Homo sapiens: one gene and its partner. The protein of the gene in region 2 purifies or fractionates together with the protein of the main gene of each other region. This does not show direct contact. Each region holds a gene or a part of one and is shown on either strand. Other genes may lie near its edges.

Region 1 (7,046 bases), on a different chromosome or scaffold from region 2:
GCCTTCAGGCATGTTTGCCACGACTTCCTCAGTCACCTTTGTTAAATTATCTGTTGTGACATAATCTGTCTCAGAATCCTGTGCTGCTACAAGAAAAGGGTTTGATGTTTTGGTGCTAGTATTCTTCTCTGTTACTATTTGGGCCTTCTTTTCTTCTATTTTTTTTTCATCGGTCTTATTTTCTGAAGTAGGATCTCCTAACAAAGGAAAAATGTTTGTTGCAATGCTCTCAGTTGCTGCTGGGTTAAAGGGAGCACATGTGATATATGCTCCTGAACGATCCTTTATACCTTCTGGCGTACTGGGGAAAGAAGTATCATCATTACTACTCTCACTATCTTTTTCGTGATTAGTTTGCTCAAGGCTATCTGCAAAACATTTTTTATCCACTTTACTTTCCAAGTTGCTCTCGATTTTACCTCCAGCAGCCAACATATCACTATCTTCCTTACTATCTTTCACTTCCCATACTCGCTCAAATGGTTTGAAGTCTGCATATTCCTCCCTCATAGGAGCTTCCACTGCAACTCTCTTTTCATTAAAACTGTCTTTTGCTTTTTCTGAAGACACAACTTCATCCTCTTTAACCAATTTAGTAAGAGCTGTAGGTAACTCTTGTTGATTATGAAGGATGTTATTACTAACTAACTTCTCTTCTTCATCTTTATTTTTCACGATTATTTCTTCCCTAGGATTTGCTACTATTACGGCAGATTCTGCTTTTGGAGAGACACTGAACGATGATCCCATTTCTGAGTATTCTAATTCTGAAAACTCTGTTAAATCTCTATCTATGAGTAGAGTTTTTGCCTTCTCTGAGACCTCTTTAGAAGCTTCACTGACATTTTCTTGAAGTGTTCCTTCAGTGGGTAATACTGTTGACAAATTACCAAGGTATTCATGTTCTTTGAAAGAAGCGGCTGAGAGAGGAGACAGAGAAGGAAGAGAAGCAGCAGTTTCAAGCAGGACAGATGGGAAATCCTCTTGACCAGCCGAAATAGTGTTACCTGGCTGCTCCTTCAAGTCCATATTTTCTGTGACCATGGACAGAAAGGAAAGTTAGAGAATGCCAGTGTTCTCAGAGTTAATGCAAGTTTTATGACAGATCCAAAATAGTGTTAGTAAAGACTTACTGTTTACTAAAATGAAATGTTAATAGCAATTAATAAGTAACAATAGAGTAGACTTCAATCATTACTGAAAATATTAAGCTATTGTAAATATAACATATGCATGGCTACAGAGGCAATTACATGCTGTGCAAAGACAAATCAAGTCTGAGTAAACCTCAAATGTTATCAACTAAGATACTAATAGCTAGTTTTAGAGAAGAGAAGAATATCTGTGAAAAGAGTTTCGGTGACAGCATAGGAAAGAAGGGGCACTGGGTAAATGCCATAGACTGGTATTTATTTACAGGAAAGCCTTTCTGGCTATACTCAAACTGTATTTGGAGAAAGGGAATGGTAAATATGTAAATGTAATTCAAGGGTCCAAGAATTCCTTATGTACTTCCAAGTATTCATCAGATTTTGCTCATTTTTCCCTTGGGCATACCATATAAAATGCACATTTCAACTTTTCCAGTAGACAAAACATTCTCGGAACCATGCTAATTTTTAGTAAACCCAAACTACTCTGCATAGTGTTAACACACTAAAGAGTTAAAGTTAGAATACAGAGAGGATAAAAGGCTGGCAGAAAGAACTTGCCTGCAGAGGAGCGTATCACAGGCTCAGATGCAGCAGGAAGAGCAAAAAGGGTCTCATCTGAAAAACAAATAGAATATAACCTCAGCAGAAATAAAGACAGATTGAAAGGAGACTAAAGATAAGAGGAGCAAGCCAGGGTTCAGTTTGTAATAAGTTAACAAAAAACTTTACAGAGAAAGGGCCAAGATCAAAAGGAAGTCAGAAAAAGTAGTACCATTAATTCAGGTTAAATCATCATATGTATTATAAAGCTAATTAAATGTTATCCATAGAACCTATCATTTTTCAAGAGGCAATACAACCTGTTTATGTTAAAGAAACTTATGAATCAAAGTGGCTTTAAAATACTGTTCTACTTAACATATCACATCCCAAGCTTTCACTCAGGTTTTCACATAGGTAAATTGTCTTGTTCTATTCAGGCCAAAAACAAAAAGCTGAATTTGAATACAATTAACAACTACAAATGTTTAATCTTTTGTTATTGGCATATATTCAATTTAAAGAAACACTTTTAAAGAATTATGCATTTTCTCTTACATTCTAAGTTGTTACAGTCATTGTACATTGCTCTTTGAAGACATTAGTCCTGTGCCAATGTCCAAATGCCAGAGTCCAAAATACAAAAAAAAAAAAAATTAACTGCCTTTAGGATGACACCATTATTGGTTTTGCTTAAAATTAACCTAAGTGAGGGCTACTTGTTATTTGTATACACAACTAGTAAGTGAGAGACTAAGGCAATTCAATTCCAGAGCCCATTTCCTTAATCACTGTATGTTACAGAACTGAATGCTTATATTTCCTACAAAACTCATGTTAAAGCCCCAACCCCTAAAGTGATAGTATCTGAAGATGGGGACTTTGGGAGGTGATTAGGGTTAAATGCAGTCAGGGTGGGGCCCTGGGCCAAGGGGATTAATGCCCTTACAAGAAGAGACACCAGAGAGCTTGCTGTCATGCTCCCTGTCTCCCCAGGCACACACAAGAGGTCATGTGTGCACACAGTGAGATGGTGGTCACCTATAAGCCAGGAGAAGAGGCCTCAAAAAGAAATCTACCTTGCCAGCACCTTGATCTTAGACTTACCAGCCTCCAGAATTGTGAGAAGTAAATTTCTGTTCAGCCACCCAGCCTATGGTATTTTGTTACGGCAGCCCAAGCTAACTAATACACTCTATATTGGTAATATTAACTTTGTACAATGTCATCTTGTACCTGCAGTTGGGAGATCCTAAGCTAAAGATCTTCCATGGTTTACACTAGAGAAAGGCCTCTACCATCAGACAATTTGAAACAGCCTGAGAGATGACTGGAAGGTGATATTCCTTTAACAGAGAGAACCTAATAAATTTAGACAATTTCATCTGGATGGACAAGCTAGACAAGGCTGATCAAAACAGATAAAAATCCAAGAAATGTAGCTAACATGAATACGGACTTGTCTTCCAAGCATATTACCCTTAATGAATTAGGAGAGCTAACTTCACAAGGTCTTATATATTTTAGATAAATATATACTGGGCATGAAGTCATACTTAAAGGATTCCTAGATGAGGGTGATGACGGGAAATTTATGATGTGTGTTTAAAAGGGTTTCCTCCAACCTAGAGCACTAGGTAGGATGGGCTATCCAGTCAAAGGGGTAACATAATGGCTTATAAGATTTTTAAATAAAGTGCATATATATGTGTACACATATTTAAAAGATTACTTGCTATGTGATCTTAAATTACAGTTTCTCATTTGTAAAATGAAGGAAAGTTCCCTTCAGCTAAAATAATGAATTATTAGCTTGTATAAAACTGAAATTTGAGGGTCAAAGAGCAGAACCAAATAATTACGCAGCTGCTCCATCTAAATAACAGTTAACCAATTCTTAACAAAATGGTTGTCTTTTTTATCTAGACAATATAGTTAAAAGCCACTAATTCAGAGGCTAGTCTATCTGGAAAGTGAACTAGAAACATATATTACTGTTAAAGTTAGTGGGAAAACAAACTACATCTAAATTTGTGCCATAATTTTAAAGTATTTTTTTAATGTACTGTACTCTTATTCCTACCTAGTGCAATAATCTTTTATAATAAAAACTATATTCCTGGAATTTTTCTAAGTAAAAAAGTTTTCAAATTGGTATTTCAAAGATTCATTATGTTTAAGAAAAAAAGAAAAATCTTCATTTTGTAAAATGGGATTCGATCCAGTTACCCATAAAACAAGTACTACATTTCTAAAAGCTCTTTAAAAAAATCCAGAATAGTTAACTATCTTCTGGGACTTCAAGAATACAGTTCAGACTCCTAATAAAGCAATCACAGATCATGAAATTGAATTGCCTAAGTCCAAATCACAAATCCATCACTTACAACTGTAACTCTTAGCCTTTCTGTGCCTAATGAAACTTGTAAAATAAGGATAATAAGAGTACCCACCTAAAAATGTTGTGAAGGAGGGAGAGGGAAAGAAAAAAGAAGAAACAACTTGCCCTAAGTCACAGAACTAGGAGGCCAGAGGGTCAAAACATCTAATTCCCAAGTCTTTGTGCTTTATAATTATTATTATTTTTTGGCTAGGCTTCCTCAAAGCACGAGATGTGCTTCATCTTCTGAAGGATGTATTTATGTACAAGTGCAACTGGTGCAATCCTTCTTACTGTATCAGCCCCTCAAGTTAGTTCTCCTGAAACAAGGTAAATCGTCACCCAGTAAATACCTTGTAATTAGCAGAAATATTGCATTGATCAATTGCTTCTATTTTACAATGTAACAACATTTATAGAAACATTAATGTGGGACAGGTACTGTGCTGAGCCGGCACATTTGTTTCAGATGTTCATTCTGTTCTCAAAACTACCCTGTAAGGTAGGTACTACTGTTACCCCCATTTCACATACGAGAAAAGAGGCATTTAAATCATATCTAATTACAATACTACAAAAAACCTGCATTTTAAAACCATAGAACTTCTGCTTCTGGCTATGAGAGTAATTACAACAGACTAATTCTTCCAATATAAGCAACTAAAAATATGGGCAAAATACTAGAAGCAACTATCTTGAGACACTGGACAAGAGGCAGGACAGCAGTGTGAATCCTGAGAAAAGGGAAACCTGCAAGATGACTACGCTGCTTTCTGTCTGAAGGCACATTCTGGTCTACAGTACAGAGAGAAGCCTAAGAATACCGCACTCTTGCTAAGCTGAGGAGGCTGAGGAGTTGTCTGGAATTTGTGAGACAGGGTAACATACAAAGTAAAGCCTCACAGAAAAGGAGCTCCAAAAATCTGGATAGGGGTTCCTCTTAAACCTCTGGGTGAATACTACGCTGCATGTGCACAGCACAAGACTCGGCAAGGCCTAGCCAAGAAACCTATGGTAGAGCTGCAAATTAACTGGATTATATCGAAGGTCAGAAAGTGCTGAAGACCTGATCTAAAAATTCTGACCAGTCAGAAAGGAAAGATCTCTCTAAACACCTCAAGCAGGACTACTCTAAGCCTAAAGGATACTCTAGACCAAGAGTCAGCAAACCATGGCTCATGAGCCCATATTGTATTGGAACACAGCCACGCCCATTCACTTCTGTGCTGTCTATAACTACTTTTGCACAATAAAAACAGAGACGAACAGTTTAGACAAAGGCTGTATGGCCCACAAGCCTAAACTATTTACTCTAACTGGCCCTGTAAGTCTGCAGACCCCTACCTCTAGACCCACCCTAACTTTAAAATCAAAACTTGAAAGGATCAAAATGATTTTCCAGCAAATTAACTGCCTGCCAGAACAAAGTTAAAACCACCAAATCCATGACATGCAGTATAAAATAAATTAATGGACATGCAAAGCAGCAAGAAAATATGACCATAAATAAGAAAGAATAGCAAATATAAACAAACAAATAACGTAGACGTTGGATTCGCACTTTTTTTTTTTTGAGGCGGAGTCTTGCTCTGTCACCCAGGCTGGAGTACAGCGGGGCTATCTTGGCTCACTGCAACCTCCACCTCCCAGGTTCAAGCAATTATCCCACCTCAGCCTCTGAGTAGCTGGGATTACAGGTGTCTGCCATCACACCAAGCTAATTTTTGTGTTTTTAGTAGAGACGGGGTTCACTACGTTGGCCAAGCTGGTCTCAAACTCCTGACCTCAAGTGATCCGCCAGCCTCAGCTTCCCAAAGTGCTGGAATTACAAGTGTGAACTAACACACCTGGCCTGGATTAGCAAATATTAAAATGAAAATTAAAATAGCTATTAAGATATTAAGTACAGAAAAAGACAGACATATAGAGTAGACAGGGAATCTTGGTGGAGAAATATAGACTAAAGGACCAAATGGAGATGCTAGAATTGTAAATTATATTAACTGAAAATAATCACTAGATGAGCTTAAAGGCAGATTAGACAATACAGAAAAAAAGATTTATTGATAAACAAACTTAAAAAACAACAACAGAAAGTATCCAAACTGAAACACAACAAGGGAAAAGGGCAAGTGAAAAAAGGAACAGAGCCTCAGTGCTGAGAGACAATCAAGGAGTTAAAATACCTATAATTGCAGTCCCCTTAAAAAAAGCAACAGTGGCCAGGCATGGGAGCTCATGCCTGTAACCCCAACACTTTAGGAGGCCAAAGTGGGAGGACCACTTGAGGCCAGGAGTTGGGACACCAGTTTGGACAACACAGTGAGACCCTATCTCTACAAAAAACTTAAAAATTAGCCGGTGTAGTGGTGCACACGTGCAGTTCTAGCAACTCAGGAGGCTGAGATGGGAGGATCACTCAAGCCCAGGAGTTTGAGGCTGTAACAAGCCATGATCACGCCACTGCACTCCACCCTGGACAACACAGTTAAGACCCTGTCTCTTTAAAAAAGACTGAAGAAGTTAAAAAAAAAAAAAAAGAAAAAATGGCCTAAAATTGGACAGAAGTTGGCATTTTGAAAATACCAACCAACAGAGCCACAAAGCTCAATGTACTCCAAGCAGAATAAACACAACACCACAAAAAGGCACACCATAAGGGTCAAACTGAAAATCAAAGATAGAGACAACCCTAAAAACAGTCAGAGGAAAAAAGCAGGTAAACAACAATAAGAATGACCTCACCTCTCATTGATGTAATCCAAAAGGTAATGAACGCCTTTAAAGTTATGAAAAAACTGACAATCTAAAATTATATACAGATGATCCTCATTATTCATGGATTCCTTATTTGCTCATTTACCTGCTCACTAAATTTGTAGCCCCAAAATCCATACTTGCAGCACTTTCAGGACATGCAATGAGCAGAGCAGGCAAACCAGAGCGGGTCATCCAAAGTACAAGTTCCCAGC
Region 2 (5,471 bases):
AAAAGTACTGTCAAAACAAAGCACATAGGTAGGTAACAAATCTGTAGGTAACTCATCCATAATCTCTGGCCTAATGATCCAGCTATTCTATAGCCTCAAAGCTAAGAGGACCAAAGAGTGGAAAAATTAAGTCCTATATATGCATCAAGCCATGCTGCTCACATTTCTCCCATTGGTAGACTGAAATCTGCTGTTTCTCCTGAAGAAGTCTCTTGGGGTTCACCAGCTTTCATATGTAGATACTGACAAGCTAATAACTATTCAGAGAATATCCTGGTTCTTCCTTCAAACGACGAAGTGTCAGACACATTTCATTTTTAACTTGTCTGGGATGGTCTGTGGACTTAACTGGTCTGATCACGACCATAACAGCTGGTGGTCACCTTTGCTTTTCCGACCACCAAATTACTGCCCTTGATCATGTTCAGTTTCCCTCTATCCCACTTTCAGAGACAACCACAAGCTTCAGCAACTAGGCTCAAGCTTGCATGCATACACTTTAATCCCTCTATAATTAAAAATACCAGATAATACTTTGCTGATCAATAAACAAAGGTATTTATTCAGCACCCATGTGCCAAGCACTGTGCTAGGCACTGTGGTGGATACAAAAATTAAGACATGGTCCCTGCCCTTAAGGAGCTTACATTCTCATGAGGGAGACAAGACTAATATACATGTACCAGCTAGGAACAGTACAAGACAATATATAATTTGGCGTTAAGAATGTCATACAGACTTGAAGCTTTATAGGGATTCAGAGACAGACAATAAAATAGGCCTTAGAGTCAAGATTTTTTGAGGAATCAGGAACAAGGCCAGGCCTTGAAGAACTGAAGAGACTTAAGTTGAGGTCCCTGTTAGGTAGAAGTGGGAGTAAAGTTAAGAAAAAAACAAGTATGCATATAATGTAGGGGCTTACTAAGAAGTCACTGTGGATTTCTGAGCAGAGGAGTGACTTGATCATACAAGATTCAACAATTTTATTGCAAACTCATAAAATATGTTTAAGTAGCCTGGAGACATCCTACAGAACACAGAAAATAATGGCAGGATCATGACTAACAACATAGCTGGAACTCACCTGTCAAAGAAAAACAGCTACAACATAAAACACTGGCAGGATAGATGACAATAGTTCTAGGAAGCCCATTACTCAACATGGCAATAGCTCCAATGCTTCCTTATTTTCAGAGGCCCCAGAGACTGAGGGTTTCATTATCCAGACCCAGGACTTAGGTGTTCTGCTTCTAGAGACTACACAAGAGGTATGAAAGATATGAGGACATACAAGAGTGACACAGAAAAAACAAGAGGAAGAGAGAAACAAATAGAAATCCATACTGGAAAAAAACGCACCGAAATGTATATAAAATGTATCTCCTAAGGAGATGCAATTTGTATGTCCATTTATTTTTAAATGAACGTATACCGTATTTCCATAACAAACAAAAAACACTATGCTTTAGTCAAGTGTGCTTTTCAGTATCACTAGAAGAATCCAGGAATCCCTCAAATTATGTGTAAGGTTAGTTGGTTGGTCTCAAAATTCCATGTATCAAATCTCACTTTCAGTTTATTTGCATTGTGAAAGGGAAGTGTGTTCTGGAAGAACTAAGATTGAGAGGTAAATTGGGGAGAAAGTAAGGACTTTTCCTTATGTCCATTCAAGCACAGGTATCCTGTCAAGCAACACAGGGCTAGGAATGGTGGTTGTAGGGCTGGCCAAACTGATGAGAGGTGATTGAAATTACCACTGCTCAGGACACAGTGTAGTCAGTCACACAGCAGGGCATCCTGCCACTGGGAACTTGCACCCTATAAAATCGGAGAAATCAAAAACCCTGTAACTGCCTGCCTTTAGGCTGTATATTCAAAATGTATTTCCTGTTTTACCTAGTCATTAATGTATACAGATATTCCCTACTTAAATGAACAGTGAGTTAACAGATTTTAGGATTAGTATTTTACCACAAAAATGCCATTCATTGCATAACTCCAACTCAGGGAGAACAAATAAAACTAGAGAAACTCATTTCTAGCCCAAAAACAATTTAAAAAAAAAAAACAAAAAACAAAATTCTAACAAACGTCACTGATAAAGCGTTCTTGAGCAAAAACAAGATAGGATAAAACTTAAGAATCCCATAAGGATTATACATGCTAAGATTGGCTTTTAAACTTTGAAAACCTTTTTTAAACTGCTTAAAAAGCAGTCCCATAGACCCAGGTTCCATAAAATTGCAACAATCATATTCAAAGTTATTAGCAACATGTAAAATACTTAAATACCATTAGTTATGCAATTCCATTTAAAGACATTAAAACACTTTTCACTTCAAAAACAATCTGAAAATTCCTATTTAGGATGTCCATTATGTTTAAGCCTATGTCTATCTTTCTGAGGACAATGTCACATTCTGGAAAGCTACCCCTTAACAAAGGTTGAATGAACTACTACTAACAATCCACTTTTGGGAAAGGGACCTGTGCCTACATGCCGTTAATGAAAGCTGTTTGGAATCATCTCTTTCCTAGGGGTGCTCTTTCGACTCTTCCAGGTTCTGGAAGTTACTTAAGCAGTGTGAATGCAAACCTGCTGAGACTCAGGGAAGACTTAATATTTAGGGGAAGTATTTATTGAACCACAGCATTAAGTGTCTACTTCTGTGGACCCTGTCTAATTTCTACCTGATTGGGAAGGTAATCCAGGTACTTGGCTCTGAAAAGGTTCTTGAATTTTCACGAAGCAAATGACTAATGTTAACTAGCCAAAGACCCTGGAAGAACATATGCCTAGCTAACTGGTATCTGTTCGTCTGGCTCCAAAGTCAACATTCTAACTTGGTTTCCAAATCTAATGAAAATCTGAGACCCTGTCTCTATTTTTTTTTTTTAATTAAAAAAACAAAAAACAAAACAAAACAAAAAAGGCAAAAAAAAAAAAAATGGCTGGGCATGGTGGCTCATGCCTGTCATCCTAGCACTTTGGGAGGCTGAGGTGGGAGGATTGCTTGAGTCCAGGAGTTCAAGACCAGCCTGGGCAACACAGTGAGACCCCATCTGTATTTAAAAAAAAATTTTTAATTAAAACTTTTTTAAAAATAAAAGAAAAAAAAAGTCTAATGAAAATCTTCCTAGTTTTACAAAAATGTGGCCCTTACCAATCTTTCCCTGGATACTTCTTAATGGAGAAATGTAAGTAAAGCAAATAAGATGCCACATTAGCTTACAGCTGACTTTCCTATAGCTGAATTCCTACTGCTACAAGAACCATCCTCCCTCCTTTTTTTTCATGTTGTCTGACAAAGTTTGGCAAAACCCAGATGCAAAACAACCTATCCAGATGACAGAAATAAATCATCTTCCTGCTGAATCTTGCATTCTGAGTTAGTAAGATGTACACAACCACAGCATGACAGCCACGTATTTCCAATCCTGAAATGAAATCCAGTTAAAAGTTGTGAAGACACAGGAAGAACAGCTGTGTAAACTGTTCTGAGCTCAGATCTACGCAGGAGGGCTACAATACATTATCAGAATTTAAAAGATCACACACAAAAGCTTTAATACAGTGAGAGAAAAATGGAATTCCGTTTTATTTTGTCCTCTCTGAAACTTCCATTTACACCATGGCCTCATCTATCAAGAAGAGGAAGAAAAGGCTCTGCCTTATACCATAAAAATCAAGTACTCATGTACTTGTTAGAGGTGGCAGGATATTTGTTTCTCCAGTTTTTTGGCTCTAAGAAATTACACTTTCAGTACCAGTGTAGTGAGGAACCACTGGCAAACTGTTGGAAATGTCTTCTGGATTAGTCAGTGTACCATTTCATAAAGTGCTTCTGGAGTTAAAATCTGCCAAGCTGTCAAAAGTGTCCACACTTTTGCAACAAAGGATAAAAGATCCCAGTGGGTATCACCGAGTCCTTCCCAGCTGGGTCTCATTATTGGCACTGCTGCTTTAACCTCCAAGCCGCTGGCCCTCACCCCAGGCGAAGCCTCCTGGCCGTTCCTCAGGTAGTGGATTGTAATTTGGATCCTCATCTGGTGTATCAAAAATAGCTTTCCTAAAAGACAAGCAACAGATATAATTTGGTCCCAGAGTCATCTCAGGTCCAAAGTACTACAAGGTCAGTTCAGGCCCCATAGGGTTTCCACCAATAGGTAAGCATTACACCTGCCTGCCAATTAAACAGTTAACATATTGTAAGAGCATCTATAATTATTAACATTTACATTAGCTTTTATCTTTTACTGATTTTTACTACAAAAGCAATCCAAATCATAATAATTACAGAGAAGGAGGAAATAGAGATGAGCAAAATATCCTCAATTTCCAGAGGTAACTATTGTCAATGTTTTAGTTATTCTTTGGGAATTTTTACATTATGTCATTTTACAAAAGTTAGATCACACTACATGTTTTGTAACCTGACTTTCACATATTTATCATTAATGTTTCCCCATAACCAAGGTATCACCCAAGTGTGCATCAACAGGTGAATAAACAAAATACGGTACACACATATAATAGAATTTTTTTTTTTTTTTTTTGAGACGGGAGTCTCACTCTGTCGCCCAGGCTGGAGTGCCATGGTGCGATCTCGGCTCACTGCAACCTCCGCCTCCCGGATTCAAGCAATTCTCCTGCCTCAGCCTCCCGAGTAGCTGGGATTACAGGCGCCCGCCACCACGCCCGGCTGATTTTTGTATTTTTAGGAGGGAAGGTTTTCATCATGTTGGCCAGACTGGTCTCGAACTCCTGAACTCAGGTGATCTGCCTGCCTCGGCTTCCCAAAATGCTGGGATTACAGGCATGAGCCACTGCACCTAGTCAACATGGTGAAACCCTGTCTCCACCAAAAATACAAAAATTAGCCTGGCGTGGTGGCGCATGCCTGTAATCCCAGCTACTACTCAGGCGGCTGAGGCAGAAGAATCACTTGAACCTGGGAGGCACAGGTTACAGTGAGCTGAGACTGCTCCATTGCACTCCAGCCTGGGCGACAGAGCAAGACTGTCTCAAAAAAAAGGAAGGAAATTCAGGCACATGGTACAACATGGATGAACCTTGAGGACTTTACGCTAAATGAAATAAGAAATAAGCCAGACAAAAAAGGACAAATATTGTATGATTCCACTTAGGTACAGAGTAGTCAAATTCAGAGAAAGAAAATAGAATGGTGATGGCTGGGGTGGGGAGTTGTTTAATGAGTACAGAGTTGTAGTTCTGTAGGATGAAGAGAGTTCTATGGATGGTGGTGATGGCAGCAAAACAGTATGAATATACTTAATGCCACTGAACATTTAAAATGAGTTAAGATGGTGAATTTTATGTTAGGTATTATTTTACCACAAAATTTTTAAAAAATTAACAAGGTATCCCAAGAAAAATTACTGCAGAACATAGGAGGGGATAGTAAATGTCCAAAAGACTCCCTAAGTACTATGATGTAGTAATTCAAAAC

What was found. The genes of interacting proteins can lie anywhere in the genome.
Region 1: the proteins of DERL2 (region 2) and RTN4 purify together in Homo sapiens (affinity purification with mass spectrometry; 3 studies listed by BioGRID and IntAct, with this or other methods). This does not show direct contact.

What each region holds. Positions count from the first base shown.
Region 1 is NC_000002.12:55,026,452-55,033,497, forward strand, and holds part of RTN4 (reticulon-4), read right to left. Parts: intron 1,770-7,046; coding exon 1,713-1,769; intron 1,035-1,712; coding exon 1-1,034. UniProt on the Homo sapiens protein: Required to induce the formation and stabilization of endoplasmic reticulum (ER) tubules. They regulate membrane morphogenesis in the ER by promoting tubular ER production.
Region 2 is NC_000017.11:5,470,720-5,476,190, forward strand, and holds the end of DERL2 (derlin-2), read right to left. Parts: intron 4,071-5,471; coding exon 3,965-4,070; 3' UTR 535-3,964; downstream 1-534.